3 separate regions of the Homo sapiens genome follow, and all the other regions are linked to region 1. Evidence: fine-mapped expression QTL. A gene starts in region 1. Each other region holds a variant in brackets. All regions are shown on one strand. Distances are between the middles of the regions. Region 1 holds the start of CAPN2 (calpain 2). Region 2 overlaps LOC105373281 (a long non-coding RNA gene). Region 3 overlaps LOC105373281 (a long non-coding RNA gene).

Region 1 (10,499 bases):
TCTGCCAGACGTGGAGACCATCCACACTCTAGAGCCACCCTATCCACTGGGTTAGCATCCTCTCTCCTCTGTTACTGCATGCAAGTTGTTTTGCTTGCATGAAATTCCTTCCTTTCCCACTCTCTTCCCTCCTTTTCCATATTGCATCATACCTTGAGGCTCATTGTCACCTCCTCCGTGAAGTCGTCCTAGTCCAATCCTCACTCATCCCTTCAAGTCTGAGTCCCAGAGTCTCTGGACTCTGCAATTTACTACTTAGGTATTACTCTGATTTCCTAACACATACCCTTTTGAGGGCAGGCGGGATCTAACCCTTTTGAATTCTTCCATGGGACCATGAAACTTACAGCATCTATATATTCTGTACCTGCTTACATCAGAGACTGTGCTCAAAGCTTTACCTCATGGAATGGGTATTATCCCCCTTTTACAGACGAGGAAACAGCTCAAAAAGGTGAAGTGACGTGTCCAAAGTTAACACAGTTCACAGATAATAGACAGCACTGGCATTGGAACTTACTGATCAAATGCGCCAACTCTTTCTGCTCCTGCCCTGCCTCTAATTGATTTAGTACCAAGCGTTCAAGGGTGTTAAAACCTCAGGGGCCATTGTCATGAGCAGCCTGATGGAAGCCAACCTTGAACACTTCTTAGCCCTTTCAGCAGCCCTCTGAGTGTGTTTCGATTCTGAAGAGCCCCACCCAAAAGCCACAGAGGAAGTTGGGGCACAAATTTGAGCCTCTCTGGGCTCAGGCAACCTTGCCTTGAAGGAGCTGCGTCTCATGTCTGCTTGGGTTGCACACGCCTGCCTCCACCCAACGGCCCTCGGCATGCCCACTCTGTCAAGCAGAAGTATGCCTATATGAGACTTGGATCTAGCCCCTGTTCATTCTAGCTCAGATTGTGGGAGCTCTTCCGGAAGCACCATCTGCCGCAGAGGACATTCCCTTCATGCCTCTGCCTTGTTTCTCTCTGCTCCTGTCAGTTTTGGGGATGGCAGAGAGAATCAGAATGCTCTTCTGCTGAGGCAAAGGAAGCCAGCTTGGCCCAAGGCCTGCCAGAGAGCTCTTATCCAGCTGATGGAATAGATTGGGCTTGGTGCTGGGAGCCTGTTTATTATAAAGAATCACACTGATAATCCTGAGTGTGCCAGGCACTTACTCCAGCAGGGTTTTTCCATTATACTTCAGAAACTTTCTAATGCCTTTAGCAGCCTCTCTAGAAAAGTCAGAGTTCAGAGTGGTGCTAAACACCTAAGCATCTAAGCGATGCTTCAGAAAACTGAAACTTGTGCACGGCATGTAGGGCATCGAATTAAATATGGGTCTTACCAGTCAGTGAAAAGGGGCTGAGGGTTTGGGCTTTGCTGCATTATTCTGATAACCTAGGTTTGAATCCTGGCTCTGCCACTTATTATGTAGGTCGTAGGACCCTGGGAAGTCACTTAACCTTTTGAAGTCTCAGTTTTTTCACCTGCAAAATGGGAACGATGAAAACACCCACCACAGAGGATTGTTCTGAGTGTTAAATGAGATAATGATGTAAACATGCCCTGGCAAGCACTCCATAAATGTGATCTATTATTATTACTGTTGAAGAAGTTGATGATAACAGTCACTGAACTTGGAGACAGGACATATGGGTTTGAGGCTGAGTTCGGCCAGCTGAAGATAAGCAAGTGAGAAACCTCTCAGAGGTTTGATTTTCTTGGGGGAAACATAGGGGCTCACAACATCTGCCCTTGCTCCTAACAGACTGGTTGCTGGAAGGATCTGATGTGCCACCCGGATCACACCTGCTTTCTCCTCACTGTACCCCTGCATGGCCCTTGGACCCCACTGGACTTACTGCTTTAATCCCCGCTCCAGGCACTGGAGCCACTCTTGCCAGTGTTGTGAAATCCTCTCTCCGAGGAAGAGCAGCTCCTCCTGCTGCAAGGCTAACCTGCTCCCCTCCCCTGCCCACAACCCGTATTCTCACTTCCTCAGGGATCCTGTTTCACTGCCCCCTCCCTGCCTTTATCTTTAATCCCTTCTTCCTGGTGATTCAACATATGACACATTCAAGTTGTTCTCATATGAAAAAAACACAGGCTCTCAAAGTCCAGGTCCTACTCTACCTATCAGTTCTCCTCTCTTCCCGGGGGTCCTTCTTAAATAAGTTGATCATGTTCTTAATTTCCAGTTCCTTTACTCTGGAGTCTACAACAATCTGGCTTCTACTCTCACCTTTCCATTGAAATTGCTCTGCTAAACTCACCAATGACTTGCTAGTGTTCAAATCCAGCGGAAACAACTGTGCTCCCCTTGCCTGACCTCAGCAGCATTTGAGAAGGTAGGAAGGAGGCAGAGAGCGCAGCCATAAGGGGTAGGCTCAACATGCACAGACTACACACAGTCCTGGATCTATGCCCTATATCCACTTGACTCTGAGCAAGTATTTAACCTTCCCAAGCCTCAATTTCTTCAACTGGCAAATGGGGATCGTAAAAGTCACACTCTTCCTTAGTTGTGCAGTGCACAGCCCGCCTGCCCTAAGCAGTGGCGCTAGATCATCTCTAGACCTCTACATCCTCATCTGGAAGTCCCACAGGCATTTCCAACTGTTGGGGGACCTGTCTCTGTCCCCTCACTAGCCTCAGAAGTAAGTCTTCAGAAGCAGAAACCATATGCATTGTGCCCAGCATATAGTAGGTATTCGAGAAATGCTTACTGAATGAATGAAAGAATAAGTGAATGAGTATGTGAACTCACTATGTAAACTGTAAAGTGCCATGCAAATGTAAAGTGAACACATTCTCTTGGTTTGTGTTTCACTTTTTTTTTTTTTTTTTTTACTTTTTTATAGAGACAAGTCTTACTGTGTTGCCCAGGCTGGTCTTGAACTCCTGGCTCAAGCGATCCTCCCACCTTGGCCTCCCATAGTGCTGGGATTACAGGTGTGAGGCACTGAGTCAGGTCAGCGTATCACTTTCACAACCATAATTTCATTTGAGGCACATTACAATCCTGCATCCATATTCTACAAACAGTCACTTCTTTTGTGTTCACTGGTGTATCTCCTGAGCTCTCAGGACAGTGCCTGGCATGTAACAGGTGCTCAATCAGTGTTGTCAAATGAGTGAGTAAATGAATGAATGAATGAATGAATGAATACTGTGAAAGGCATGGTTATGTGTCAGGCACTGGGGATATACTGGTAAATAATATACACATGATTCCTGCAGTTCAGTAGGAAGAACAAATACATGTGATTATATTCTAAACTGTGACAATGCTATGAAGGAAATGAGTGGGGTGACAGAGAAAAACAAGGTGGGGAGGTGGCTGCTAAGAAGGGTCAGAAAAGACCTCTTTAGGAAGGGAACATGTGACTAAGTTGGGAAGAATGAGAGTGAGCCACACTCCAGGTAACAGCGTGCCTTGCTGGTGAGAAGGCCTCATGCAGGAAAGAACCGGCTCTTTGAGAGACTGAAAGGAGGCCATGACGGCAGGGCCTAGTGGGCCACAAAAGAGAGAAAATATTTAGGCAGCATGTTTTCTTTTAGATGAAGACATGGAGGCACAGAGAGGTTAAATGGCTCGTTCAAGGTCACCAGCAGGTTAGCAAGAAGAAGAACCCAAGTGCTCTGAGTCTGGGCTAGGGCGCTTCCTGCAGCCCTTGCTACCTATGGGCTGGATTTAGGGTAACAGAAGGTGACCTGGGAGGCTGCTGGGTGTGGAAGCAGAGCTGGAAGCCTTGTTCTCACAACAGGAATCTAGAAGTTGGACTTCAGGGCAGGCTTTCCTAGGCGTGGTAGGGGAAGCCTGGGGAAGTGTCCCAAAGGAGGAGGAGCCTCAGGGGTTCCCCAAGAAACAGAATGGACAAGTAGATTGGGGAGCACAAGTTGTCCCAGGGCCGGGAGGTCAGAGACCCTGGGGGACGGGATAAGGGGGTCTGGAGGGCTCCCGGAGGTTTCCCGGGTGATTCCCGCCAGGGAAACCATGAGACACCTCCGTGTCCTGGGTTAATTACCAGTGTCAATGTTATGAGGAGGTATCGCTGGCTCCCCTTTGGAAAAATAAATCTAACCCCAGGGCTGCAGGAGACTATCCTTAGTCACAAAATGACCAGGCTATGGCCTGTCCCCCTCCATGAACAGACAGAACCCCAGTTGGAGACGGACTTTGTCTGGTAGATGCTGCCTCTCACCGTCCCTTCCCTGCAGACCCGATTCCCCTTCCCTTCCAGCTCCCCGCTAGAGTCCAATCAAAGTTTCACCCCGGCCTCCTGCATCACCCTGAGTTTTTGTGAAGTCCTAAAGTGGCCTGCTAGTGGGATCTGAGGGCAGTGATTCGCCTCGACCCGCCCAGGAAAGCGTGGTGGGTGGAAGAGAGGGAAGGCCCCGGGAGTCCCCCCACGCTCGAACAGAGTCCCGGGCTCTGGCGGCGCGGAGGTGTCGCAGGACTGCGAGGTCCTGGCTTGCGGCTTCCCCACTGCAGCACCCGGGCTGCCCCCCGCCCCAGCGCGCCGCGGGCCGGCCTGCACCCCGCCCTGCCCGGCACCCCGCCCTGCCCGCGTCCTGCCGCGCGCTTCCTACCGTGGGGCGCTTCCACTCGATGCCCCGGGTTTTGCTGGAGTAGGGCCCCAACTCCTTGAAGCCCAGGGCCGAGGGGATGGCCGGGAAGGACGGGTCCTGGAAGAGCGTCCCGGCCTCCAGGCACTCGTTCCGCAGCGCCTCGTAGTCCTGGTTGAGGTACTTGATGGCCCTGTCGTGGGAGCCCAGCCCCTCGGCCGCCTCCCGGTCCTTCGCCAGCTTGGCCGCGATGCCCGCCATGCTGCGGTCCCGGCGGCCGTACTGCGCAGAGAAAGGTCGGGGCGACTCCGCGCTGCGCTCGGCTGGGGCGCGGCCAGGGCCCGGCGCGCTGCTGCGGCCACTGCGGGCGCCGCCGCTGCGAGCGATGATTCACCGGAGGGAAGCGGCCCGGCCCGCGGGGTGTGGCCTCAGCCGCTCCCGGCCTGCTGGGCTCCCGGCCCGGGACCAGGCCATCCTGCGGCCTGCCGAGCGCCGGGAACGCCGCGACCCGGGGCCGGTGCTGCCATCTGCGGACAGCTCCCGGGATGGCGCGGCCCGGCGCCGGGGAGGCTCGCGAATCGCGGTCCAGAGTTGGGGCTCCCACCGGAACCCGAGGCCACCTTTGCAGCCCATAGGGAAGAAGGCTAGGATAGTTGTGGCCGTCCGGAAAACACCCGGGGAGTTAGCAGAGGGTCAGGTAGTGAAGTCGAGGAAACTAAACCAGCTGCCCTGAACTTTGTGCCAAACAGCGTCTTAACGGCTCTGCATACATCATCTCATTTAATCCTCCCAGCGACTCTGAAGAAGGCGCTGATATTGTCCCCATTTTACAGATGAGAAAACTGAGCCTCGGAGACGCTAAATGACGTCCCCAATGTGGCACAACAGTCACAGGCAGAACAGGGACTCTAAGCCACCGGAGGCCTATTGCAATCACAATGCTGCAATTACTACTGCTCAGCTGTTTATTTGATTATAGATAGGGTTGTCAGATTTGGCCAATAAGGCTGGGTGCGGTAGTTCACACCTGTAATCCCAACACTTTGGGAGGCCGGAGGCAGGCGGATCACCTGGGGTCAGGAGTTCGAGACCAGCCTGGTCAACATGGTGAAATTCCGTCTCTACTAAAAATACGTCGTGGCAGGCACCTGTGATCTCAGTTACTCGGGAGGCTGAGACAGGAGAAACGCTTGAACCCAGGAGGGAGAAGTTGCAGTGAGACGAGATCGCGCCACTGCGCTCCAGCCTGGGTGACAAAGCGAAACTCCATATCAAAAATAAAATAAAATAAAATGATTTGGCCAATAAAACAACAACCCTCCCAAATGTTTAATTTGAATTTCAGATAAACAACAGATACTTTTAAAGTATATGTAGGGCCCAAATATTGCATGGGCATACATACTTATTCTAAAAGAAAATATGATTCATTGTTTACCTGAAACTCATATTTAACTGGCAGGATTAGTTGGGTTACTATAGGGAGAGAGCATTTAGAATACTGCCTGTGTTGGCTACTGTGACCACTCTGTTGTGGAGCTAGGGTGTGATTCTCATCTCACACACAGAGACATGGGTGCGTGCCAAGAAATGCAGATGGGCAGAAATTACCTCCTCTTCTTCTCTACAGTAGTAGGGAAGAATTTGGGTTTCACTGGAAAACTGTGCATGGTCTACAGCAGTGGTTCTCAACTGGGGGCAGTTTTGTCCCCTACCCACCCCAGGAGACATTTGGGAATGTCTGGAGATAGTTTTTATGGTCACAGCTAGGAGATGAGGTGCTACTGGCCTTTACTAAGTAGAAGCCAGGGATGCCGCTGAACATCTTCCAATGTCCAAGATAGCTCTTGTGAACCCAGAAAATCTGAAACAGGTCTCATTTAATTTAGAAAGTTTCTTTTGCCATGGTTGAAGATGCACACCTGTGACACAGGAAGTCCTGAGGACATGTGCCCGAGGTGGTTGGGGTGCAGCTTGGTTTTATACATGTTAGGGAGGCAAGAGCCATCAGTCAAGTACATTTAAGAAATACATTGGTTTGGTTCAGAAAGGCGGGACAACTCAAAGTGGCGGGGGGTGGTGGGTGGGTAGTGGGGGTGGCTTCCAGGATATAGGTAAATATTTAAACATTTTCTGGTTGACAATTGGTTGAGTTTGTCTAAAGGCCCAGGATCAATAGAAAGGAATGTTTGGGTTGCGATAAGAGGTTGTGGAGACAAAAGTTTTATCACATAGATGAAGCTTTTAGCTAGCAGGCTTCAGAGTGAACAGGCAGTAAAATGTTTCTTATCAGACCTAAACTCTGGTTGATGTTCACGCTGGAGAGGTATAATGAAGCATGTCCGACCTTGCCTTTCCTTCATGGCCTGAAAATTTCAGGTTAAAATTTTAAGAGCCTCGGCTAAGGAGGAACCATCCATTTAGATGGTTGGCGGGGGTAGGGGAGGGGGAGGCTTAGAATTTTATTTTTGGTTTACATTCTCCACCCAAAACATGATCTAGTCCAAGACATCAGTCATGTAGAGGCTGAGAAACCCTGGTTTAGAGCATCTCCTTCCAGAAGATCTGGGTCTAGCCTTTCATTGTTTTTGTTGTTGTTGTTGTTGTTTTTGTTTTTCTTGAGATGTAGCACCCTGTCACCCAGGCTGGAGTGCAGTGACAGGATCTTGACGATCTCAGCTAACTGCATCTTCTGCCTCCCGGGTTCCAGCGATTCTCCTGCCTCAGCCTCCAACGTAGCTGGGATTACAGGTGCACACCACCACATCTGGCTAATTTTCTATATTTTTTGTAGAGATGGGGTTTCACCGTGTTGGCCAGGCTGGTCTCGAATTCCTGACCTCAGGTGATCCGCCTGCCTCAGCTTCCCAAAGTGTTGGGATTACAGGTGTGAGCCACCACACGAGCCCCTTTCATTGTTTTTGAGTTATTTTATAACTCTAAGTTGTATATAACTGTAGCAATGTATAGTTACCTAAGTAACTCTAAGTAAGTAATCTAAGTTGTAGATAACTGTAGCAATGGAAAATAATTTTTCCTATAGATATGCAAATGCATTCTGTCCAGTAGAGGCACTACAGTCCCCCTGTAGAGAGACCAGTTTTTTGTCTAGTTGCATATTCCATTTCAGTACTCTTCACGTCATGTAAATTGTGCTGCTTTGGTTTCTCCTTTGAACCAGTTATAACATCCACCAGATTGCCTCGTTTAATCAAGTTAAATGGACTCTTTTTTTTTTTTGAGATGGAGTTTCACTCTTGTTGGCCCAGGCTGGAGTGCAATGGCACAATTTCGGCTCACCACAACCTCCACCTCCCAGGTTCAAGTGATTCTCCTATCTCAGCCTCCCGAGTAGTTGGGATTACAGGTGCCTGCCACCATGCCTGGCTAATTTTGTATTTTTAGTAGGGACAGGGTTTCTCCACGTTGGCTAGGCTGGTCTCGAACTCCTGACCTCAGGTGATCTGCCCACCTCTGCCTCCCAAAGTGCTGGGATTACAGGTGTGAGCCACTGCACCCTGCCGAAATGGAATCTTTAAAATGTGTTTATTTTATACTAATATGAGAGCCATGATGTTACCTTTTCTTAAAGCAAGTATTTTTGTCACTATTATTCCTCTGCCCCCATCTATTCTTGTCTCTGACACCCATTGCTTACCCCCTTTGCTTGACAAAACTTTGGTCAGACTTCTCTCTTTCCTACAGATCCCTGAATGCTGCTTGCCCCCAAGCCTGAACAAGCACAAACAAAGTGGAGTGTCCCTGCCAAGTCACTTCCCTGCCCAGCTTCTCCTGGGAATTGACTGAACACAGCAAGACCCTTTTCCTGTCAGCTCCCACTGGTCATTTCCCCTCACTTGTCCAGCTTCCCCTCCCAAGAGTCTGCTTATCTCCACTTGCTCCTCCTTTACCCTAGAAAAGAAGAATCTTTTTCTGTTTGATTTTGAGCTGCTTGCAGATTCTCTGAATTGGAATTGTCTTTCTCTCTTTTTTTTTCTTTTCTCTTCTCTTTTCTTTCTTTTCCTTCCTTCCTTCTCTTTTTCTCTATTTTTTCTTTCTTTCTCCCTCCCTTCTTCCCTTCCTCTCCTTCTCTCCTTCTCTCTTTCTCTCTCTCTCTCTCTTTCGCTCTTTCTTTCTTGTTTCACTCTTGTTGCCCAGGCTGGAGTGCAGTGGTGCAATCTCCACTCACTGCAACCTTCGCCTCCCGGGTGCAAGTGATTCTCCTGCCTCAGCCTCCTGAGTAGCTGGGATTACAGGTACCAGCCGCCATGTGCAGCTAATTTTTTTGTATTTTTAGTAGAGACGGGGTTTCCTCATGTTGGCCAGGCTGGTCTTGAACTCCTGACCTCAGGTGATCCACCTGCTTTGGCCTCCCAAAGTGCTAGGATTACAGGTGTGAGCCACTGCGCCTGGCCTGCAATAGTCTTTCTTTCTATTGAAGTGTCCCTTTATAAAAGTCTGGATTTTTTTTTTTTTTTAAACAGAGTTTCACTCTTGTTGCCCGGGCTGGAGTGCAATGGCGCGATCTTGGCTCATTGCAACCTCCGCCTCCCGGTTCAAGTGATTCTCCTGCCTCAGTCTCCCATGGTTTTGTTTTTATTTGACATCCTCCATCTCTGGTTTGCAAGTCTGGGCATGCTGCCTGATGGGCAGGTACCACCGTCCACCACCAGGCTTTGCTTTCTTTACTCTTGAATAAGGCGGGGACACAGGTTCCATTGTGTAATGGTTGGCACTCTGGACTCTGAGTCCAGAGATGGGGATACAGGCATTCATTTCTAGCTCATGGGTTTCTGGTGCAAGGGTTTCATGAAGCCATCACAATTGAAAACAGAGGAAAGCGACAGCCCTGTCCTGGAAGCTGTTCATTTGTTCCACTGTCTGATTTCCATTGGCCCCACCCCGACTTCTTCTGGGCTCGAGGCTCTTGGGAGAAAGCTTGTCCTTCTGCCCAGTGGGGCAGAGCGCAGGCTTCTCCTCCCACTGATCTCCTCAAGGACAGCTCATCTCTGGAGGAAGTGACTCCTCCCAGGCAGGTGGAGGTCATTTCCCTCCTAAGTCATTTTAGCAACAAATGGGCAGATCAGACCTATCATTCCAGTCAACTCAGAAGCTTTGCACAGCCTGGGAGCAGAAGAGCCTCCTGGCTCACCTGAAGTTCCTCTTCCCCAGCTAGGCAACACCCTCTTTGGTGCAGCCCTGGCCACTCCCCTTGCCAGCCTTCTAGGGATCGCTGCGCACATAGAGCTCTGCTTACAAAGGGCTTTAGGCTGTCCTATGCCACCCAAATTTAATTGCAAACACATACAATGACTACTTTCCCCAACCATTTGGACAAAGTCTAGTTTTTAAACCTGAGTTAATGTTGCTTTTTCTACTTCCCAAAGCCTCTCACACTATGCTATCTCACTGACCCAGCAAAGTCTTCTCTTTCTCTGACCACACAATCCTTTTCACGGGAACACAAGGACATAGACAAACACTTCATGGTGGAAAACCTTCCTGGAGTGAGTCAGCCAGCCCTGAGGATGGTGGTGAGTCAGAAACAGCTGGGATTATCCAGAACTGCCTGGGTCTGGGCCACTGACCTTGTGAGTAAATGAGAGAGGGAGTGAGAGAGAGAGATAGAAAGAGAGAGAGAGAGAAGAAGAGAGAGAGAGAGAGAAAATAAGAGAATAAGAATGTGTGTGTCTCAGAGGGCCATGGCAATGGAATCTTTTTCAGTAGTATTTTTCTTTAGATTATTTTCTCCCTGGCCCTGGATGTTTGAGATGCATCAGAGGCACAATCTGCAGGTTCTGGATTTTTTTTTTTTTTTTTTTGAGGTGGAGTCTCACTCTGTCACCCAGGCTGGAGTGCAGTGGCGTGATCTCGGCTCACTGCAACCTCCGCCTCCCGGGTTCAAGCAATTCTCCTGCCTCAGCCTCTTGAGTAGCTGGGATTA
Region 2 (10,499 bases), 22 kb after region 1:
CCTGTTAGTTGATCGGGAAGTGTGGCCAAACCAGTCTGCCTAAGACTACACACCCTGAACTGATATGATGGAGGTTGACACCAATCTTTTGGGGGGTCTTTTGGAGGATTTTTAAAAAAATAAACTTCAGCTTTATCAAAAATTATGGAAAAATTGCAAGACTAGTCCAAACCCCTCCTGCATATTTTTTACCCAGATTCACCAATTATTTACCTTTTGCTTCATTTTTGCTTTATTATTCTACCATCCATCCATCCATCCATCTACATACACACCATTATATGCATATACATAGCATTATATCCCCATTACATATGCATATATGTGCTGTGTGCCTGTGTGTGTATATTTTTTCTGAACCACTTGAGAATCAGTTGCAGACATTGTGCCCATTTACTCCTAAGTACTTCAGGGTGTATGAAAGTCAGAATATTTAACACTGGCATATTGCTATTATTTAATCTAATTGATATTCAAATATCATCAATTGTCCCAATAATATCTTTTATAACCTTCATAATTTTTTTCTCAGGTAAATGATCCAATACAGGATCATGAAATGCCTTTAGTCATTATGCCTCTTTAGTATTCTTTAATCTAGGGCAGTTCCTCAGCCTTATTTTGTCATTTGTGACCTTGACATTTTTGAAGAACACACTCTAGTTAGTTTGTAGAATGCCTCTCAATTTGGATTTGTCTGATGTTTCTTTATGAATAGATTGAAGTTATGCATTTTTGGCAATAATATCATAAAAGTGATATGTCTTTCTCAGGACATTACATCAGGAGGCACATGATATCGATTTGCCCCATTTCTGATGATGATAATTTCGAGAATTTAGTGAAGGTGGTGGCTGTCATTTTCTTCATTGTAAAATTACTATTTTTAAAATACCTTTGAAATTAATCAATTATTTTTTGGGAACTACTTTGAGACCATATACATATTCTGTTCCTCAACAAACTTTTACCTACTAGTTTTACATTCATTGCCTGAACCAACCACTACTATGATTATTATAAAATAGTGTTTTTAAAAATTATAATATTTCCTCTTCCTTTATTGGCTGGTATACGACTGCTAGGAAGAGTTTTCCATTATCTCCCAGTTATTTACATAAATAAGGGCAGATAGGTTCCTATATTACTCAATGGATTAAATGCATTACTATTATTATTTATTTTGATGCTCAAATTGCCCCAGATTTTGCCAGGGAGAGTCCCTTCAGGACAGCTCCTGTGCCCTTCTGCCGTGTCCTCATCATTCTTCGAGCACCCCCTTACTTCCTGGAACATGAAGCTATTCCAGATTCCACTTATAATTTTTCTGCCCTAGTTCTGGAATTAAACATTTCTTTTTTTGTGGGGGGAAATTAAGCATTTCTTCAAGGAGCCTTTTTTTTTTCTTCTTTTTCTTTTTAGTGAGGAATAGTATTTAGAAACCAAGATCTGGGTGCTTAGTGCTACTGGAATTGCTTCTATTGCCTCAAGGCAGACAGATCTCTGTTCTCTGTATTAGAGGACACTCTGTCCACTCTCTAGCTAACAGGCCCAGCCAAGAATTTTCTTATTCTTTTTTTTTTTTTTGGCAGAGTCTCCAGGCTGGAGTGCAGTGGCAAGATCTCGGCTCACCGCAACCTCTGCCTCCCAGGTTCCAGCGATTCTCCTGCCTCAGCCTCCCAAGTAGCTGGGATTTCAGGTGCCTGCCACCATGCCCGGGTAATTCTTGTATTTTTAGTAGAGATGGGGTTTCATCATGTTGGCCAGGTCAGGTCTCGAACTCCTGACCTCAGGTGATCTGCTCACCTAGGCCTCCCAAAGTGCTGAGATTACAGGTGTGAGCCACCATGCCAGGATGAATTTTCTTATTCTTTAGGAGAATGTACCTTGATTTGATTTGTTATTCACTATTGAATGGGGCCAAGACCATAACGTTACATACTAGCATGTAGATTTTTGTCTAGTATAGCTACTAATAATTTCATTCAGGGAAAAAAAATAAAACAACAAAAGCTAAAATAAAAAATAAAAACCAAACAAATAAACAAAAACCCTAAATCCCAAAGGTTATAGTCTTCTTGCCCTGTATAACATTAACCAGTTTTGTATACCACCCCAAAATTCTATTTTAACATCTTTTATTCAGTGCCTATAATACTTAATCTCTCAAGTTCTCTTGAAACCAACTTTACCATCCCACTCATTCTCTCATTAATTAGGTAAACGAGTTTTTAAAAAACCAGGTACATAAATCTAAACATAATGCTCTCTTTATAAATGTAAATAAATAAAATACAATTTTAACTCATAAAAAATTATACCCACGCTGGTGCAGAGCCTCTCCTTTAATCCCAGCACTTTGGGAGGCCAAGGTGGGTGGACCACCTGAGGTCAGGAGTTTGAGACCAGCCTGACCAGCATGGTGAAACCTTGTCTCTACTAAAAATACAAAAATTAGCCAGGCGTGGTGGCAGGTGCCTATAATCCCATCTACTTGGGAGGCTGAGGCAGGAGAATTGCTTGAACCCCGGAGGTGGAGGTTGCAGTGAGCCGAGATCGTGCCATTGCACTCTCTAGCCTGGGCAGCAAGAGCGAAACTGTCTCAAAAAAAAAAAAAAAAAAATTATACCCAGCTGGGTGTGGTGGCTCACACTTGTAATCCTAGCACTTTGGGAGGTCCAGGTGGGTGAATCATTTGAGGCCAGGAGTTCGAGACCAGCCTGGCCAACATGGTGAAACCCCATCTCTATTAAAAATACAAAAAATTAGTTGGGCATGGTGGCACATGCCTGTAGTCCCAGCTACTCAGGAGGCTGAGGCAGGAGAATTGCATGAACCCGGGAGGTGGAGGTTGCAGTGACCTGAGGTTGCACCACTGCACTCCAGCCTGGGTGACAGAGACTATCTAAAAAAAAAAAAAAATTATACCCTGCCACTTGAATTTAAATTGGCCTCCAATTCCAAATGACCACAATGTGATTTATTTTAACCTTCCCTCTTTCCATATTTGTAATTCTCTTCTCCAACAGTGAGAGATATTGCTTTCATCCTTCTGAATATATTTATTTATTTATTTAATTCAAGAATACACAGAAAGTAGTTTTAGAATCACAAACCCATACTACCATGAAAATTACAACTACCAACTAGGTTAGGGTTCAATGTTTGTTTATAGTTCGTTTTGTCCTTACTGAGAAGATATAGTCAAAATGCTATAGACAAAGTCTCTTGAATTACTTAGTTTCCCCCCTATTCAATAGATTCTTTTTGAATCTGGCTGGGCACGTGGTGGCTCACGCCTATAATCCTAGTACTTTGGGAGCCAAGGAAGGATTGCCTGAGGCCAGGAGTTTAAGACCAACCTGACCAACATAGCTAGATCCTATCTCTCCAAAAAAAAAAAAAAAAAAAAAAAAAAAAAAAAGAGAGAGCGATTCTTTCTGAATCTAAAATCTGTTTAGAACAGGAGTGGCTTGGTTTACTCCACTACCCTTTGTTAGAGTGTTTCTAACTGTGGCGGTTCCTTTCACATGAAAATAGGGCCCTCACTTTTTGTATAGGTGGCCATAGACATATAATAGAAATAACAAACAGACAAGTAGCAGAATATACAAAACAGTTGCGTTTTGATCACTTCCCAGGAGTTGTGCATTCAATTTACCAGTGACTTCGTGTTTCTACTAGCCTTTTGCTGATATCCTAACTACACATTAGTTCTTTCCACCCCACGTGGAAAATGACAGTATTGGCGTACTTTAATTAACTCCAGATAATTTTCTCTATTTAGAACTCTGAGAAGTTGATCTCTCTCCAGAGGACCCCAGATAATAAAAAGCATTCTAATTCTCTAGAGTTGGGCCATTCAAAGCCAGTTTTAAACAAGAGGTTGAATGATGTCCCCACATGTTCAATTTTATATATGGTGTTAGCATACTTCTGGTGATAAGGGAGTTTTGTTAATGACTCATATAAATGACAGCTTAATTTTTAGTTTTTAATAGTTGTGCTG[T/G]GTGCTTTGCTCTCATTTTTAATAGTTCGCTGTGTGATTTGTGTCCTGTTAGGAACAGGATTCTAACAAAGCCTAACTCTTGGTGAAATCTGGAGTTTATCATCAGGTCCCTGGCCCTGTTGTATCACCCTTTCCCACCTTGATGGTAGTCTCCCTGTTTTCCTTGTATGCAGTGCCCTGAGGAGATCTTTTTCACACATTTAAAAGTCTTCTTTCATCAAAGTATCTGAAAGTCAGTCACATGAAGTTGCAAATAACAGATAATAGCTTAAAGTGTCACTCTTCTCTCCTAGACTCCTACAGGACAACCAGGGACAATCATCTTCACAGGAACCTATCCTCCCTGCTGGGTATGTAATTTGCATAATTTATAGCGCTGGGTGCAAAATGAAAATGTGCTTATCTTGTTAAAAATGCAGGAAAAAAACTGTAATTAAAATACTAAAATATAAAGCCTGTGCGGTGGCTCACGCCTGTAATCCCAGCACTTTGGGAGGCTAAGGTGGGCGGATCACTTGAGGTCAGGAGTTCAAGACCAGCCTGGCCAACATGGTGAAACCCTGTCTCTACTAAAAAGACAAAAATTAGCCGGGCACGGTGGTGGGGCGCCTGTATTCTCAGCTACTTGGGAGGCAAGAATCGCTTGAACCTGGGAGGTGGGGATTGAAGTGAGCCAAGATCGTGCCACTGCACTCCATCCTGGGCAACAGAGTGAGACTCTGTCTCAAAACAAACAAACGAACAAACCCCTAAAATATAAAGCTTTTTTTTAAAAAAACAATTTTTATAAAATGTAATAGGGATAATAGTGATATATGAGTAATGACTAAACCTACAAATTGCAAAAATGTACCATTTTTTGTTTCACCAATTTATATAATACAATGGATAATAATACTTTATTAATGTGAAATCTTGATTGGTCATAAGATTTTTCTGACTCACTTCTCTGCAAATCATTTCTAAAGCCATCAAAATTTATATATATATATATTTTTTTTTTAAAAAGGGGCTATGCTAATCTTCTCTGTATCATTCCAATTTTAGTATATGTGCTGCTGAAGTGAGCACCAAAATTTATATTTTCAAGATGATGACAGCAGAGTAAGAAATAAAAATAAAATCCTAAGCCTCCCAACCGACTGAATGGAGTGCCTCTCAGCCAAGTGGACCCCAGAGGAACCTTAAAAACTGAGTTCCCAGCCATAAGGGGATGGGAGGTCAGATACACCTCAATATGCCCTATCCTTATTCATCTTTAACCAGAAATTTTTCCTAAGGAGTACACGGAAATCAGCCCTGGGGAACAAGATACAGATGACTCTACTTCATTGCCTTTAGCCAGTCATCTGAGGCCATGACTGGACTCCCCCTTCCTTTTTGTGGTTTTTTTTTTTTTTTTTTTTTTTTTGAGACGGAGTCTCGCTCTGTTGTCCAGGCTGGAGTGCAGTGGCGTGATCTTGGCTCACTGCAAGCTCCATCTCCTGGGTTCACGCCATTCTCCTACCTCAGCCTCCTGAGTAGCTGGGACTACAGGCGCCCGCCACCAAGCCCGGCTAATTTTTTTTGTATTTTTAGTAGAGACGGGGTTTCACCGTGTTAGCCAGGATGGTTTTGAAGATCTCCTGACCTCGTGATTCACCTGCCTCAGCCTCCCAAAGTGCTGGGATTACAGGTGTGAGCCACCGTGCCTGGCCTTTTTGTGGTTTTAACACAGCAACTAACCAGCATTCCTTCCTGGTAAGAGATCACTGACCACAGAGTGGTTCTCAGCAGTTTGCAGAAGATGCACGTTGATGGTTTTTGTGTTCTCTGTTTCACCTTTTGATGTCAGAGGGCCAAAAACTCCACCCTTGGATCATGCAAGCATCATCATTTTTTGAACATGTGACGCATAAAGAGGCATGAAGCCCAATTGCACATGCACATGTTTCTCTTTTCATAAATATTCATGACTCCTCCTATTGTGTACTAAATATGTATACTTAGCCAAGCCATTCATTATACATTCCTGTTTTATCCATCCCTGCCTCGAAGTACCTGCTTCTGACTTCTGTCACAGGCTACACTTCCCAGCCTGTAGGAATGGCCACCTTGCAGATTGCAACACTTCATGAGAAATAAACCTCTTATTTCAAAATTTATGAACCTCACCACTCGTTAGTTGACAAGAGTATTAACCTAAGCATGGGGCCCCTCTTGGAGCAGGGCCCTTATGACTGCATAGGTTGCTGCCCATGAAGCTAGCTAGCCCTGCTGACCTTGTTGCTGGTTTTCCAGGAGTAGATGCCGAGACTGTGCTTGGTGTACAGAGTATTTATTAGGAATCAACATCCGTGGATGAGAGGAGGAGGAAGCAGTCTTGGGCAGAGGGAAAAGTCAAAATGTGATGCAATTGTGACAAAGCTTTGGCCATTCCTATGGGATGTTCTGGACCATACACGGCCCATCAGAGATGCTAGATTAAGCCAAAATGTCTGTGTCTTTATACCTTACTTCTATCAGTCATTGGATGTGAACTGCCCCAACTTTGGGAGGTGGGATTAGCAGAAAGTTTCCAGGTCTCAAATCCTTTAGAGTTTGTTTCAGTTGCAGAGAGCTAACTCAACCAAGGGCATGACCCTCCCAGGCTGAGCAACATCCTGCTTTCTCTTCTGAAGAAAACAGTAGCAAACCAAATCCAGCTCTCTATATATGATAATATATCACAGCCAATAGCTGAGGTCAAGAATAGTAGATTGACCTCGTGTGGTGACTCACGCCTGTAATTCCAGCACTTTGAGGTGAAGGTGGGAGGATCGCTTGAGGCCAGGAGTTTGAGACCAGCTGGGCAACATAGTGAGACTCTGTCTATACAAAAAATTAAAAAAAAATTAACCTGGTATGGTAATGTGTGCCTGTAATCCCAGCTACTTGGGAGGCTGAGGTGGGAGGATCACTTGAGCCTGGGACGTTCAGGCTGCAGTGAGACATCATCGTGCCACTGCACTCCAGCCTGGGTGACAGAGCAAGACCCTGTCTCAAAAAGAAAAAAAAAAAAAAAAGGAAATTGCTTAAACATTAGGGAATCAGAGAATCAGTCACTGATGGATTGATATATATTAACAGAATGATGCATAAAGATACAGATATAGAAAGGTTGAAAATAAAATGATGGAAAAAGATATACTATGTGAACAGTATGAGAAGGAAGCTGGCATAACTATATTAAAATCAGACATAATACTTTAAGGCAAAAATCATTATTAGAGTTAGAATGAGGTTGTTTGTGATGATAGAGGCTCAAATCAAGAGGAATGTTAAAAAGGAAGAGGGATAACTCAAGGGAAGGTCAGCGAAGATTGTGGAGGAAATTGTGTGTTTCCAGGAAGCTCCAGGCTCCTCACATTTTCCCCACCAGCCAGCAGATAGATATTCCATAGTTTAATTTCTTTAGCTTAGTGCTTTATTGTATAGTTAAAATTAAAAAAAAGAAAGCAAGAAAGGAAGGAGCCATCAAGTTATGAAAGGACATTGAAGAAACTTAAATACATATTACTAAGTGAAATAAGTTGTATTAGTCCATTTTCATGCTGCTGAAAAAGACATGTCTGAGAGTGGGTAATTTATAAAGAAAAAGAGGTTTAATTGACTCACAGTTTCACATGGCTGGGGAGGCCTCACAATCATTGCAGAAGGTGAAGGCACATCTTATATGGCAGCAGACAAGAGAGACCTTGTGCGGGGAAACTCCCATTTTTAAAACCATTAGATCTTGTGAGACTGATTCACTATCATGAGAACAGCACTGCAAAGACCCGCAAAAGTCATTATTAGAGATAGAATGGGGTTGTTTGTGATGATAGATGCTCAAATCATTTTTCCCCATGATTCAATTACCTCCCACCGGGTCCCTCCCACAACATGTGGGAATTGTGGGAGCTACAATTCAAGATGAGATTTGGGTGGGGACACAGCCAAACCATATCACTAGTCCGTCTGAAAAGGCTACATAACATATAATTCCAAATATATGACATTCTGGAAAAGGCAGAGCAATGGAGACAGTAAAAAAAAAAGATTTCTGGGTGTTTGGTGAGGGGTAGATGAACAGGCAAAGCACAGAGGATTTTTAGGGCAGTGAAAATACTCTGTCTGATACTATAATGGTGGATACATATTATCATATATTTGTCAAAACCCATAAAATATACCATACTAAGAGGGAACCCTAAAGTAAACTACAGTGATAATGACATGTCAACATAGGTTCATCGATTTTAACAAATGTACCTCACTAGTGTGAGACATTAATAATTGGGAAGCTGTGTGTGTGTGAACATCTTACTTTCTTCTCAATTTTTTGTAAAGCTAAAACTGCTCTGAAAAATAAAACTATTAATTAAAAAAATTAATAGGAGTCTGTGTACAGAGATTCTTTTTGTACAAGGAAAAAAACCAACTCAAATTAAGCCAAAAACAAAAGTAAATGCATGATAGGTCTTGGTCCTGCTGCTTGATGACTTAAATCTAAGGTTATGGCAAAACATCTGAAGCTCATTGCCAGGCTGTGATGGTGCAGGACCCTAAACAGAATGCTCACAATGGAGGGGCTCATGACATTAAGCCACAGAGGCACTATGAGAAGCTTGCCACAGGTGACAGCGACAGAGCTGTGAAACTTGCCTGTGGATCTATAATTTGGAAGTGGCCCACAAGATGAACTCCATGGGAAAGAGTTGGGCAGATAGATACATGGCAGGGCTGCTGAGTCCTGTGTGCAGGACACCCAACACGAAAACCTCATCCATTTTGTGCTGTCGCCTCTTTTCTTCCTCCAAAAACCCATATGATGTATATTTCTCTTACCTTTTTTCCCTGCAGTAAACCTAATCCTATAGATGCAAGAAGGCCTGCATATACAGAAGCAATCCCTGCAGTCAGCAATGGAGCCTCTCTTCTCTTAAGTGACAGAGAAACTGAGTCACAAAGTAGTCTAGGAGTAGAATGATGGTTGCTAGAGGATACAAGGAGTGGGAAATGTGGAGTTGGTGCTCAATGGAGATAAAGCTGCAGTCTTGGAAGATGAAAAGATGAAACCTGCGGTTTTGGAGATGGATGGTGTGATGGTTGCATAACAATGCGAATGTACTTAGTGCCACTGCACTGTACACTTAAATGCTAAACCTAGTACATTTTATGTTATATATATTTTATCACGGTAAAAAAAAGTCCAAAGTAAATGCATGCTAAAGATTCTGGAATGTCATTGTAAAACCAAGGTAGAATACGCATGCCTCAGGAATAACCTAAACAGAGACTCAGATAACATTGGGATCCCCTTTTCAAGGTGGGAGGAAAAGTGCCCAAACTTTATTTTTCACAGCTTCAACCATCAGATTCAAGTCCAAAAATCTAGGGAAAAAACTCATTGACCCATGTTGGGTCAGGTACAGTCTCCCATATCAATCAACTATGCACAAAATGTGCCCATGCCACCAGGACTGTGGGGTGTGTGGTGGCCAATTTTGGTAAATACTCCATGTGCATTTGAAAAGAACACGGACTTTGCTGCTGTTTGGTGCAGTATTCTACATATGCTAAGGAGGCTAAGTTTGTTAATTGTGTTATTCAAATCTTCTATATCCTTATTGGTATTTTTGTCTGCTTGTTCTATCCGTTACTAAGAGTATTGTATTAATATCTCATATTAAGATTGCATATTTTCCTTTTTGTCTTGCCAATTTTTATTGTACATATTTCGTGGCTATGTTGTTATAAGTATACAGTTTTACTACATCTTCCCAGTGAATTGATCTTTCATGATTATGAAATGTTTCTCTTTATCGCTAATAATGCTTCTTGCCTCAGGGTGTTCTTTTTCTGATATTATATAGCTATATCATCTTTCTTTTGGTGTTTGCATGCATTTCTTTCTGTACTTTTATTTTTAACTTTTCTATATCTTTATAGTTAAGCTATGTCCCTTTGTTGCTTTTAACTAGGCTGAGAATTTTTTTAATGCAATCATTTAGATTTAATGGAATTACTAATATGTTTGCATCTAAACCTACTTTCTTCTTTTTGCTTTTTGTTTGTCCCATCAAGTCTATGTTTTCCTTCCTCTCCTTTTTTTTTTTCCTTTCTTTTGGATTAACTATTTTTTATTATTTCATTTCACCATTAGACTGGTTTTTACTATCCTTTTGGTGGTTATCCAAAATGTCAATAATGCAGAGGCTAAGAAACCCTGACTAACCTCTTATTTTCTCTAAACTGGCAGTAAAATCTAGAGGTTTGATTGGATTCAGTTTATTTTTTGGGGGGTGGACAGAGGTCTTCACAGATGAACCTATATTGTACACCGTATTATATGAGAAGGCAATAATGTCCCATGCATAGATGCACAGATTGATAAGTGGGCTTAGGTGTTTCAGTCAGATCCATCTATTATAAAGTTCTCCATTCGCCTTTCATCTAATTGTGTTAGCATCCATTGGTGATGGCTACC
Region 3 (10,188 bases), 36 kb after region 1:
TACTAGAGATAGGCTTTCACCATGTTAGCCAGGATGGTCTTAATCTCTTGACCTCATGATCCGCCTGCCTTGGCCTCCCAAAGTACGGGGATTACAGGTGTGAGCCACCGTGCCTGGCCAGCACATGGCTTTCTTTAATTTCTTTAAGTTATTATTAGTAGTATGACGAACTGGGCACAGTAGCTCATGCCTGTATTTCCAGCTCTCTGGGAGGCCAAGGTGAGAGGATTGCTTGAGCCCACGAGTTTGAGATCAGCTTGGGCAACATAGGGAGAGCCCCATCTCTACAAAAAATACAAAAAATACAAAAAATTAGCCAGGCATGGTGATGTGTGCCTGTGGTCCCAGCTACGTGGGAGGCTGAGATGGGAGGATCAGTTGAGCTCAAGAGGTCAAGGCTGCAGTGAGCCACGATCATACCACCGCACTCCAGCCTAGGCAACACTGAGACTGTCTCAAAAACAAAACAAAAAGTATGATGAATTCCTATGTATCCACCACCCCACCCGAGAACTAAAAAATTACTTAAAACTTACGTCTCTCTATATGCTCCTTCCTCACTTCGTTTCCCACTCTTCAGGGTGAAAGAGACCACTATTCTGATCTTCGTGTATATATTTTCTTTTTTTCATGAGTTTTATTTCATATATTTGTATGCATATGTTATATTTTCCACATTCAAAATTTCTCCACTAAACAGGGAAAAGAGAAAGACCCTTTACATGGAGAAGAGCTAATATGCACTCCTTGAAATTAGAGCCTGGCAGCTTCCCGTATATAATTCTTATTAAAAATATTAAAAATTGGCCGAGTGCAGTGGTTCACACCTATAATCCCAGGACTTTGGGAGGCCAAGGCAAGCAGATCACTTTAGCTCAGGAGTTCGAGATCAGCCTGAACAATACGGTGAACCCCCCCAATCTCTACTAAAAATACAAAAATTAGGCAGGCGTGGTGGCGGGTGCCTGTAATCCCAGCTATTGGGAGGCTGAAATGGGAGAATCGCTTGAACCTGGGAGGTGGAGGATGTAGTGAGCCAGGATCGTGCCACTACACTCCAGCCTGGGTGACAGAGTGGGACTCCATCTCAAAAAAAAAAAAAAAAAGAAAGAAAAAAGAAAAAAAAAGTTAAGAATTCCTCTTTCAAAAAAAAAAAAAACTTTCAATAGAATGAATAGTCCAAGAAAACATCATGTTGGTGCTCCAGCATGTTACCAAGCACCCCAGGGGGCATATGTCCCCAGTTAGAGAGCCACTTCTGGCAAGGTGGCTCTGATAGGCTGAGAGAGGTACAGCCCTCTGGCCAAGGAAGTCAGGGGCTAGCTGCTGGGGTTGCAAGCACACCAGAGCTTGTGAGTTTGCAAACATACAGGGCTCCAAGGGGTGTGGGCATTGATGTTATGTGCCACAGCAACCAGTCCCTTAGCTTGGTCAGTGACATGGGACCTGTGTGATCTGGCTTAAGAAGGTACCAGGGCCAATTAGATTTTTCTCTTTTGGCAATTTAGACAGAGAAACACAAAGGGATTATTTGCTAGTAAGTTGTGAGAGCTGTATTAGGCAAGTCATAAGACAGAGTTGGAGCTGGAGAGGCTATGATAGGCCATGGGGAAGTCCAAGTTTTGCCGGAGCAAAAACAATGAGTAATCAGCCGGATGCGGTGGTTCACGCCTGTAATCCCAGCACTTTGGAAGCCAGGTGGGCAGATCACTTGAGGTCAGGAGTTCGAGATCAGCCTGACCAACACTGTGAAACCTTGTCTCTACCAAAAATACAAAAATTAGCTGGACGTGGTGGCAGGCGCCTATAATCCCAGCTACTTGGGAGGCTGAGGCAGGAGAATCACATGAACCCTGGAGGTGGAGGTTGCAGTGAGCTGAGATCATGCCACTGCACTCCAGCCTGGGCGACAGAGTGAGACTTCAATTCCAAACAAACAAACAAAAAATAATGAGTAGTTCAACGAGGCCAGCGGACAGCAGGACTGAATTAGACAGGTGACCAGAGCTGAAGCTTGCTAATGGGCGTGCAGCAGCGTAAGGACCCACCGTTCTGGTGCTGAGCCTGCTGGAGCCATGTGCAGCCGACATTCAGCAGAATTCACCTGCTGATTTTGGGAGGCCTGGCACCATCAAGGCTCTGGTTCTTAGATTTCTTGCTCTCACATATTCATAACTTACTTAATCCAACTTTCCATCTACCCCATGCCTGACCTGTGCCTGTACAGCTCAGTGTGACTGGAATAAAGCACACAATCAAGGTATGGTAGTTAAAAAAATGCCCATAAATTATTTGGTATTCCTTACTTTAAGAGGTGGAGGTAAATTCCTCTTTTGAGAGTGGGCTGGACATAGCAATTTGCTTCTAATGAATAGAATAAACCTGAAGTGAGTAGACAACTTCAGAGACTAGATTGTAAAAAGCAGTTCCCTCTCTGATTTTTGTATCACTTGTTCTGGAGGAAGTCAGCTGCCGTGTCATGATAACATTGAAACAGCCTAAGGAGAGACTTACGTAATGAAGAACCGAGGCCTCCTGCCCATGGCCATGCGAGTGAGCCATCCTGATAGGAGATCCTCCCACCACAGCTGAGCCATCAGTTGACTATAGCTGCAGTCGGTGTCTCATGAAAGTCTTAGAGGTCAGAACCATACAGCTAAATTCCCAAATTCCCTATGCACCGAAATGGTAAGATAATAAATATATGCTGTTCTAGACCACTGAATTTGGGAAAATTTGTCATCTGCAAAAAATAAATAATATATGTGTTGATCTGTCTTACATTAAATTGATAGTCACTAACTCAACTGGCCCTTAATGCCACCTGGCAGCATCATGTCTCTTATCCAATTTTCAATATCACTTATTTTATTTTATTTAAAAATTTTTTTGAGACAGAGTTTCGCTCTTGTTGCCCAGGCTGGAGTTCAATGGTGTGATCTTGGCTCACTGCAACCTCCACCTCTCAGGTTCAAGTGATTCTCCTGCCTCAGCCCTCCAAGTAGCTGGGATTACAGGTATGCACTATCATGCCTGGCTAATTTTGTATTTTTAGTAGAGATGGGGTTTCACCATGTTGGTCAGGCTGGTCTCAAACTCTTGATCTCAGGTGATCCACCTGCCTTGGCCTCCCAAAGTCCTGAGATTACAGGCATGAGCCACCATGCCCGGCCAGATCACTTACTTTATACCTCCTCTCTCTCTCTCAAATCTCCAACACCTCTGCCCCATTCTCACTCTCAGCTAATGCCCTTCACTCCTATTTCCAAGAGAAAGGTCAAAGCACTGAAAACAGAACTTCCCAAGGTCCAACTGTGACATCTATCCTCACACTGTGTCTGCCATCTACCCTGTGACAAGGGATGAACTGTCTGTGTCCTAAGGCCAACCTCTCCCCTTGGGCTCTAGATTTGATTTCCTCTTGGCCACTCAAAAACATCCCTCCTGAAATTCATCCCCCTCTCTATTTCTAGGTGGAAAGAGCATCGACCTGAGTCCAATCAGCTACTTACAGGTCAACTAAGAAGAGGACTGAGAGTTAACCATTGGATTGAGCAACATCAAGACCACCTGGATATTGGCCAATGGTTTTACCCTGACCATCTGCCCAGAGGGATGGTAAGAGAGAAAGGCAGGACAGAAATGAAAGGACAGTGAGAATACACACCACTTTCATGAAATTTTGTTGTGAAAAGAAAGGAAGAGGCCCGGCATGGTGGCTCACATCTGTAATCCCAGCACTTTAGGAGGCCAAGGCGGGCGAATCACCTGAGGTCAGGAGTTCGAGACCAGCCTGGGCAACATGGCAAAACCCCGTCTCTACTAAAAATACAAAAGTTAGCCAGGCATGGTGGCATGGGCCTGTAATCCCAGCTACTCAGGAGGCTGAGGCGGGAGAATCGCTGGAACCCAGGGGGCAGAGGCTGCAGTGAGCCGAGATCGTGCCACTGCACTCCAGCCTGGGTGATAGAGCAAGACTCAAGGTAAAAAAAAAAAAAAAAGAAAGAAAAGAAGAAACAGGACAGGGGCATGGAGTCAAGAGAGATTAAACATTTTCTTTTTTTAAGGCAGGAGAAACTATAGCAAACTTGTATGGGAAAGAAAACGATCCAGTAGAGACAGAGAAAACTGATGCAGGTGCATCTGTGGCTGCTTGGCAGCAGGAACTGAGGTCAGGGAAGCATGTGATATAGTGACATGCCCAGCAAGAACAACCTCAAAGTACACTCGTAAGTCCCCATATTGCATGTGGAGCTCTGTGAAGGGTTGCACGATGAACTTGAGAGAGACACAGTTCCTACCTTCATGGCCTTGTTTTCTAAGACTAGGTCAGAGGACTCTCCACATTTATGCCCTCTCTTTTCTATTGTATTGTATTTTATTGTATTGTATTGTATTGTATTGTATTGTATTGTATTGTATTGTATTGTATTGTATTTATTTATTTATTTGAGACAGGGTCTCACTCTGTCACCTAGGCTGGAATGCAGTGCCTATTTATGGGCATGATCATAGCTCACTACAGTCTTGACCTCCTGGGCTCAAGCAATCCTCCCAACTCAGCTTCCCAAGTAGCTGGGACTACAGGTGTGTACCACCACACCCAGTGAATTTCTTATTTTTTGTAGAGACAGCAGTTTTGCCATGTTGCCATGGCTGGTCTTGAACTCCTGGGCTTGGCCTCCCAAAGTGCTGGGATTATAGGCATGAGCCACTGCACCCAGCCTGTCCCTTTTCTAGCTAGTAGTTTTCTTTCAGAGGAAATCAAAATATCTCCCTATTTACGCTAAATATGAGTCCTGAACTGTTACAGCTTCTGGGGTAGATGAGGTTAGGGTCTCTGTCAAATGCCAGCATTCAGAGGCATATAAGAAGCA[C/A]TCACTGTTTTCCTCTATTCACAACACATTTCGCTTCTGACACCAGATGTGTGGGTTTTTCCCCCACACTGAACAATTTTCCAACACCAGCTGGGTGTCCTACAATTTAACTCAATTCTGACACTAATTGCCTGGAGTTAGAACAAGTTAATGGCTCAGTCCTACAAGACCATCCCCACTTCAGAGCCCAATCATAAGTGGTGGGTCCCCAGGTCACCCACAACTTCTGTCTGACTTGGTTACAAATTGGAGGTTCCCACGACCTCCTCCTCATGTTCACTAATTTGCTAGAATAGTTCACAGAAAGCAAAGAGAAAAGTTACTAAGTTATGGGTTTATCATAAAACGATGCAATTCAGGAACAGCCAGATGGGAGAGATGCACAGGGCAATGACATGTCTTGGCTGTGTCCCTACTCAAATCTCATCTTGAATTGTGACTCCCACAATTCCCACATGTTGTGGGAGGTAACTGAATCATAAGGGTGGGTCTTTCCCATGCTATCCTCTTAATAGTGAATAAGTCTCATGAGATCTGATGGTTTTATAAGGAGGAGTTCCCCTGCACATGTCCTATTCTTGCCTGCCACCATGTAAGATGTTCCTTGCTCTTCTGCCATGATTGTGAGGCCTCCCCAGCCATGTAGAACTATGAGTCCATTAAACCTCTTTCCTTTACAAATTATGCAGTCTCAGATATGCCTTTATTAGCAGCATGAGAACAGACAAATACAGGCAAGGTATGGGGAAAGGGGTGCAGAACTTCCATGCCTTCTCTGGGCACACCACCCTCCCAGCACCTCCATGAGTTCAGCAGCCTGGAAGCTCTCTGAATTCTGTAGCTCAGGGATTTTTTTTTTTTTTTTAGCTGTGACCTTGCCTTTCTCTCTCTTTCTCTCTCTCTCTCTCTCTCTTTCTCTCTCTCTCTCTCTCTCTGTGTGTGTGTGTGTGTGTGTGTGTGTGTGTAGATTTCTTTCTTTATTATTATTTTTTAAACTTTTATTTTAGGTTCAGGGGTATATGTGCAAGTGCTGCGGTTTGGAGTTGTGTCCCCACCCAAATCTCATGTTGAACTGGAATTGCCAGTGTTGGAGGAGGGGCCTGGTGGGAGGTGACTGGATCATAGGAACAGTTTAATGGTTTAGCACCATCCCTCTAGTGCTGTTTTAAAAGTGTGTGGCACCCCTCCTTCCTCTTGCTCCCACTATGTAAGATGTGCTTGCTTCCCCTTTGCCTTCTGCTGTGATTGTAAGTTTCCTGAGGCCTTGACAGAAGCAGAAGCCTATACAGCCTACAGAACTGTGAGACAATGAAACATCCTTTCTTTATACATTACCCAGTTTCAGGTACTTCTTTATAGCAGTGTGAGAATGGACTAATAAAAAAAATTGGTACCAGAGAAGTGGAGCATTGCTATAAAGGTACTTGAAAATGTGGAAATGACTTTGAAACTGGGTAATAGGCAGAGGTTGGAAGAGTTTGGAGGGCTCAGAAGAAGACAGGAAAATGAGGGAAAGTTTGGAGCTTCCTAGAAACTTGTTGAATTGTTGTGGCCAAAATGCTGATAGTGATATGGACAATGAAGTCCAGGCTGAGGAAGTCTCAGATGGAGACCTCTCAGATGGAGCTTATTGGAAACTGGGGTAAGGTTACTCTTCCTATGTGTTAGCAAAGAGACTGGCAGCATTATGCCCCTGCTCTAGACATTTGTGGAACTTGAACTTGAGAGAGATGATTTAGGGTATCTTGAGGGAGAAATTTCTAAGCAGCAAAACATTCAAGATGTGACTTGGCTGCTTGTAAGAACCTACAGTCACATGCATAAGGAAATAAATGATCTAAAACTAGAACTTTTATTTAAAAGGGAAGCAGAGCATAAAAGTTTGGAAAATTTGCAGCCTGGCCATGTGGTAGAGAAAAAAAAAATTTCAGAAGAGGAATTCAAACCAGCTGCAGAAATTTGCGTAAGTAAAGAGGAACTGAATGTTAATAGCTGAGACAATGGGGAAAATGCCTGGAAGGCATTTCAGCAAACTTCATGGCAGCCTCTCCCTTCACAGGCCCAGAGGCCTAGGATAGAAGAATGGTTTTGTGGTCTGGACCCAGAGCCCCACTGCCCTGCACAACCTCGGGACAGTGCTCCCTGTGTCCTGGCGGCTCAAGCTCCAGATATGCCTCAGGCAGCTGCTCCAGAGGGTGCAAGCTGCAAGTATTGGTGGCCTCCACATGGCATTAAGCCTGTGGGTGTGCAGAGGACAAGAGTTAAGGCTTGGGAGTCTCTGCCTAGATTTCAGAAGATGTATGGAAATGGCCGAATGTCTAGGCAGAAGTCTGCTGCAGGAGTGGAGCCCTCATGGAGAACCTCTACTAGGGTAGTGCAGAAGGGAAATGTGGGGTTGAAACCCCCATGCAGAGTTTCCAGTGGGGCACTGCCTAGTGGGGCTGTGAGACGAAGACCACCATCCTCCAGACCCCAGAATGGTAGATCCACCAACAGCTTGCACTGTGCACCTGGAAAAGCCACAGGCACTCAACACCCTTGAGAACAGCCATGGGAGCTGAGCCCTGCAGAGCCACAGGGACAGAACTGCCCAAGGCCTTGGGAGCCCAGCCCTTTCACCAGTGTGGTCTGGATGTGAGACACAGAGTCAAAGGAGATTATTTCAGAGCTTTAAGATTTAATGACTGCCCTGCTGGGTTTTGGACCTGCATAGGGCCTATAGCTCCTTTGCTTTGGCCAATTTTTCCCTTCTGGAAAGGGAGTAATTATCCAATGCCTATACCCCTATTGTATTTTGGAAGTAACTAACTTGTTTTTGATTTTACAGGCTCATGGGTGGAAGGGACTTGTCTTGTCTCAGATGAGACTTTGGACTGGACTTTCGAGTTAATGCTGAAATGAGTTAAAACTTGGGGGACTGTTGAGATGGGATAATTGTATTTTGCAATGTGAGAAGGACACAAAGTTTGGGATAGGCCAGGGACAGAATATGGTTTGGATTTGTGTCTTCGTCCAAATCTCATGTCAATTTGTAATCCCCAGTGTTGGAGAAGGGGCCTGGTGGGAGGTGATCAGATCATGGGGGTGGTTTAATGGTTTAGCACCATCCCCCTAGTGCTATCTTAAAAGTGTGTAGCACCTCCCCTACACTTCCTCCTGCTCCCACCATGTAAGATGTGCTTGCTTCACCTTTGTCTTCCACCACGACTGTAAGTTTTCTGAGGCCTCCTCAGAAGCAGAAGCCTGTATAGCCTGCAGAACCATAAGCCAATTAAACAACTTTTCTTTATAAATTACTCAGTTTTAGGTATTTCTTTATAGCAGTGTGAGAATGGACTAATACAGCAAGTTTGTTATATAGCTAAGCTCCTGTCATAGGGATTTGTTGTACAGATTATTTCATCACCCAAGTACTAAGCCTAGTACCAAATAGTTATTCTTTTTTTGTTCCTCTCCCTCCTCCCACCCTCTACCTGCAAGTAGGCTCCAGTGTCTGTTGTTCCCTTCTTTGTGTTCATGAGTTCTCATCACTTAGCTCCCACTTACAAGTGAGAACATGTGGTATTTGGTATTCTTGCATTAGTTTGCTAAGGACAATAGCCTCTAGCTCCATCCACATTTCAGTAAAAGACATAGTCTTGTTCTTTTTTTGACTGCATAGTATTTCAGGGTGTATATGCACCACGTTTTCTTTATCCAATTTGTAATTGATGGGCATTTTGATTGATTCCATGTCTTTGCTATTGTGAATAGTGCTGCAAGAAACATTTGCTTGCATGTATCTTTATGGCAGAATGATTTATATTCCTTTGGGTATATACCCAGTAATGGGATTGCCAGATATAATGATAGCTCTGTTGTTAGGTCTTTGTAGCTCAGGAATTTTTATGGAGGCTTTATCTCATAGGCATGATGGATTATCAACCTAGTCACCAGCTCCTCTCCCCTGCCTGGAAGATGGGGAGTGGGGCTGAAAGTTCCAAGCCCTCCCTTCCTCCCTCCCTCCCTCCCTCCCTCCCTCCCTCCCTCCCTCCCTCCTTTCTTTCTTTCTTTCTTTCTTTCTTTCTTTCTTTCTTTCTTTCTTTCTTTCTTTCTTTCTTTCTTTCTTGTTTCTGAGACAGGGTCTCTCTCTGTTGCCTAGGCTGGAGTACAGTGGCATGAACATGGCCCGCTACAGCCTCAATCTCCTGGGCCCAAGCAATCCTCTTGCCTTGGTTTCCTGAGTAGCTGGGACTACAGGTGTGTACCACTATGTCCAGCTAGTTTATTATTTTTTATTTTTAGTACAGATATCATCTCACTGTGTTGTCCAGGCTGGCGCTGAACTCCTGGGCTGAAACGATCCTTTTACGTTGGCCTCTCAAAGTTCTGGGATTACAGTTGTGAAGCAACTTGCCTGGCTTTTTCCAAGCTTCTAATCATGGCTTGGTCTTTCTTGTGACTAGCCCCCATTCAGGAGCCCACAAGAGTCACCTTATTAGAACAAAAGACTCTTCTATTCCCAGGAAATTCCAGGGATTTAGGAGCTCTGTCAGGAACTAGAGTCAAAGACCAAATATTACAACAAAAGATGCTCCTAGCACATTTATCACCCAGGAAATTACAAAGATTTTAGAAGCTTTGTGCCAGGAACTGAGGACAAAGACCAAAATACTTATTTCTTATTAAATCACAAGATCACAAGAGGTATCCTGGCTGTGTCTTCCCTTCCTCCACACTCATCCCCAGCCTCTGGGACTCACAGAGGAGGTAAACTTGGGAACTCCTCTCCCTACCTGCCCAGCCCCAGTGCCACTACCTGAATTAAGCCATCATCGATTCTTGCTTGTTTCAGAGCAACTGCACCCTAACTATAGAGAAGAAGTCCACATCCATTTAGGATGGCATTCAAGGCCCCCAGTGTCTTTTCCTCTTGTTGTTTGCCTCCTGCCTCACTCCAGGAGTGAGTGATCTAGAATGATCTCATTCTAGATAATTAATATTCTGTTGGCACTGTGTGCAGAGCTGTTCCTTCTTGCCATTTTCTTGCTGTTCCCCTTGACTCCAATGCCCTTTTTACACTGCCTTCTTTCAAAATCATCATCCTTCAAGCACCTTATCCTACAGATCTAACTGGAAGGCCACCTCTTCCATGAAGCCCTCCTTATCACTCATCATCCTCAGAATCAACCACTCTTTCTTTGAGCATTGCCTGGTCTTTCCACTGCATGGAAGTTCTTTGTGGGCAGGCATGGTGTCTATTTGTCTTTCGATTTTTTCTTTTCTTTTCTTTTTTCTTTTTCTTGAGACAAGGTCTTGCTCTGTCACCTAG

The links. PIP is the estimated chance that this variant, and not a neighbour inherited with it, causes the effect. A credible set is the group of variants that fine-mapping cannot tell apart.
Region 2: its variant is the best candidate, but not a certain one, in a credible set for the expression of CAPN2 in whole blood (TOPMed, PIP 0.50).
Region 3: its variant is the best candidate, but not a certain one, in a credible set for the expression of CAPN2 in whole blood (INTERVAL, PIP 0.65).

The regions. Positions count from the first base shown.
Region 1 is chr1:223,706,958-223,717,456 of GRCh38, reverse strand. It overlaps CAPN2 (calpain 2), which reads right to left and starts at 4,918. Exons shown (of 21, transcript NM_001748.5): 1 at 4,580-4,918. The coding sequence starts at 4,816. It overlaps LOC105373281 (a long non-coding RNA gene), which reads left to right and starts at 9,807. Exons shown (of 3, transcript XR_949164.2): 1 at 9,807-10,089. RefSeq lists silencers at 4,452-4,571, 4,782-5,171 and enhancers at 4,281-5,232, 5,272-5,321, 9,099-9,598, 9,599-10,499.
Region 2 is chr1:223,684,632-223,695,130 of GRCh38, reverse strand. It overlaps LOC105373281 (a long non-coding RNA gene), which reads left to right. Exons shown (of 3, transcript XR_949164.2): 2 at 4,303-4,359. It also overlaps the pseudogene RNU6-1248P. Among named protein-coding and RNA genes, the nearest start is that of CAPN2, 23 kb to the left of the region's middle. The variant T/G (reference allele first, on the strand shown) is at 4,010.
Region 3 is chr1:223,671,368-223,681,555 of GRCh38, reverse strand. LOC105373281 (a long non-coding RNA gene) reads left to right here. Exons shown (of 3, transcript XR_949164.2): 3 at 3,474-3,738. Among named protein-coding and RNA genes, the nearest start is that of CAPN8, 11 kb to the right of the region's middle. The variant C/A (reference allele first, on the strand shown) is at 4,878.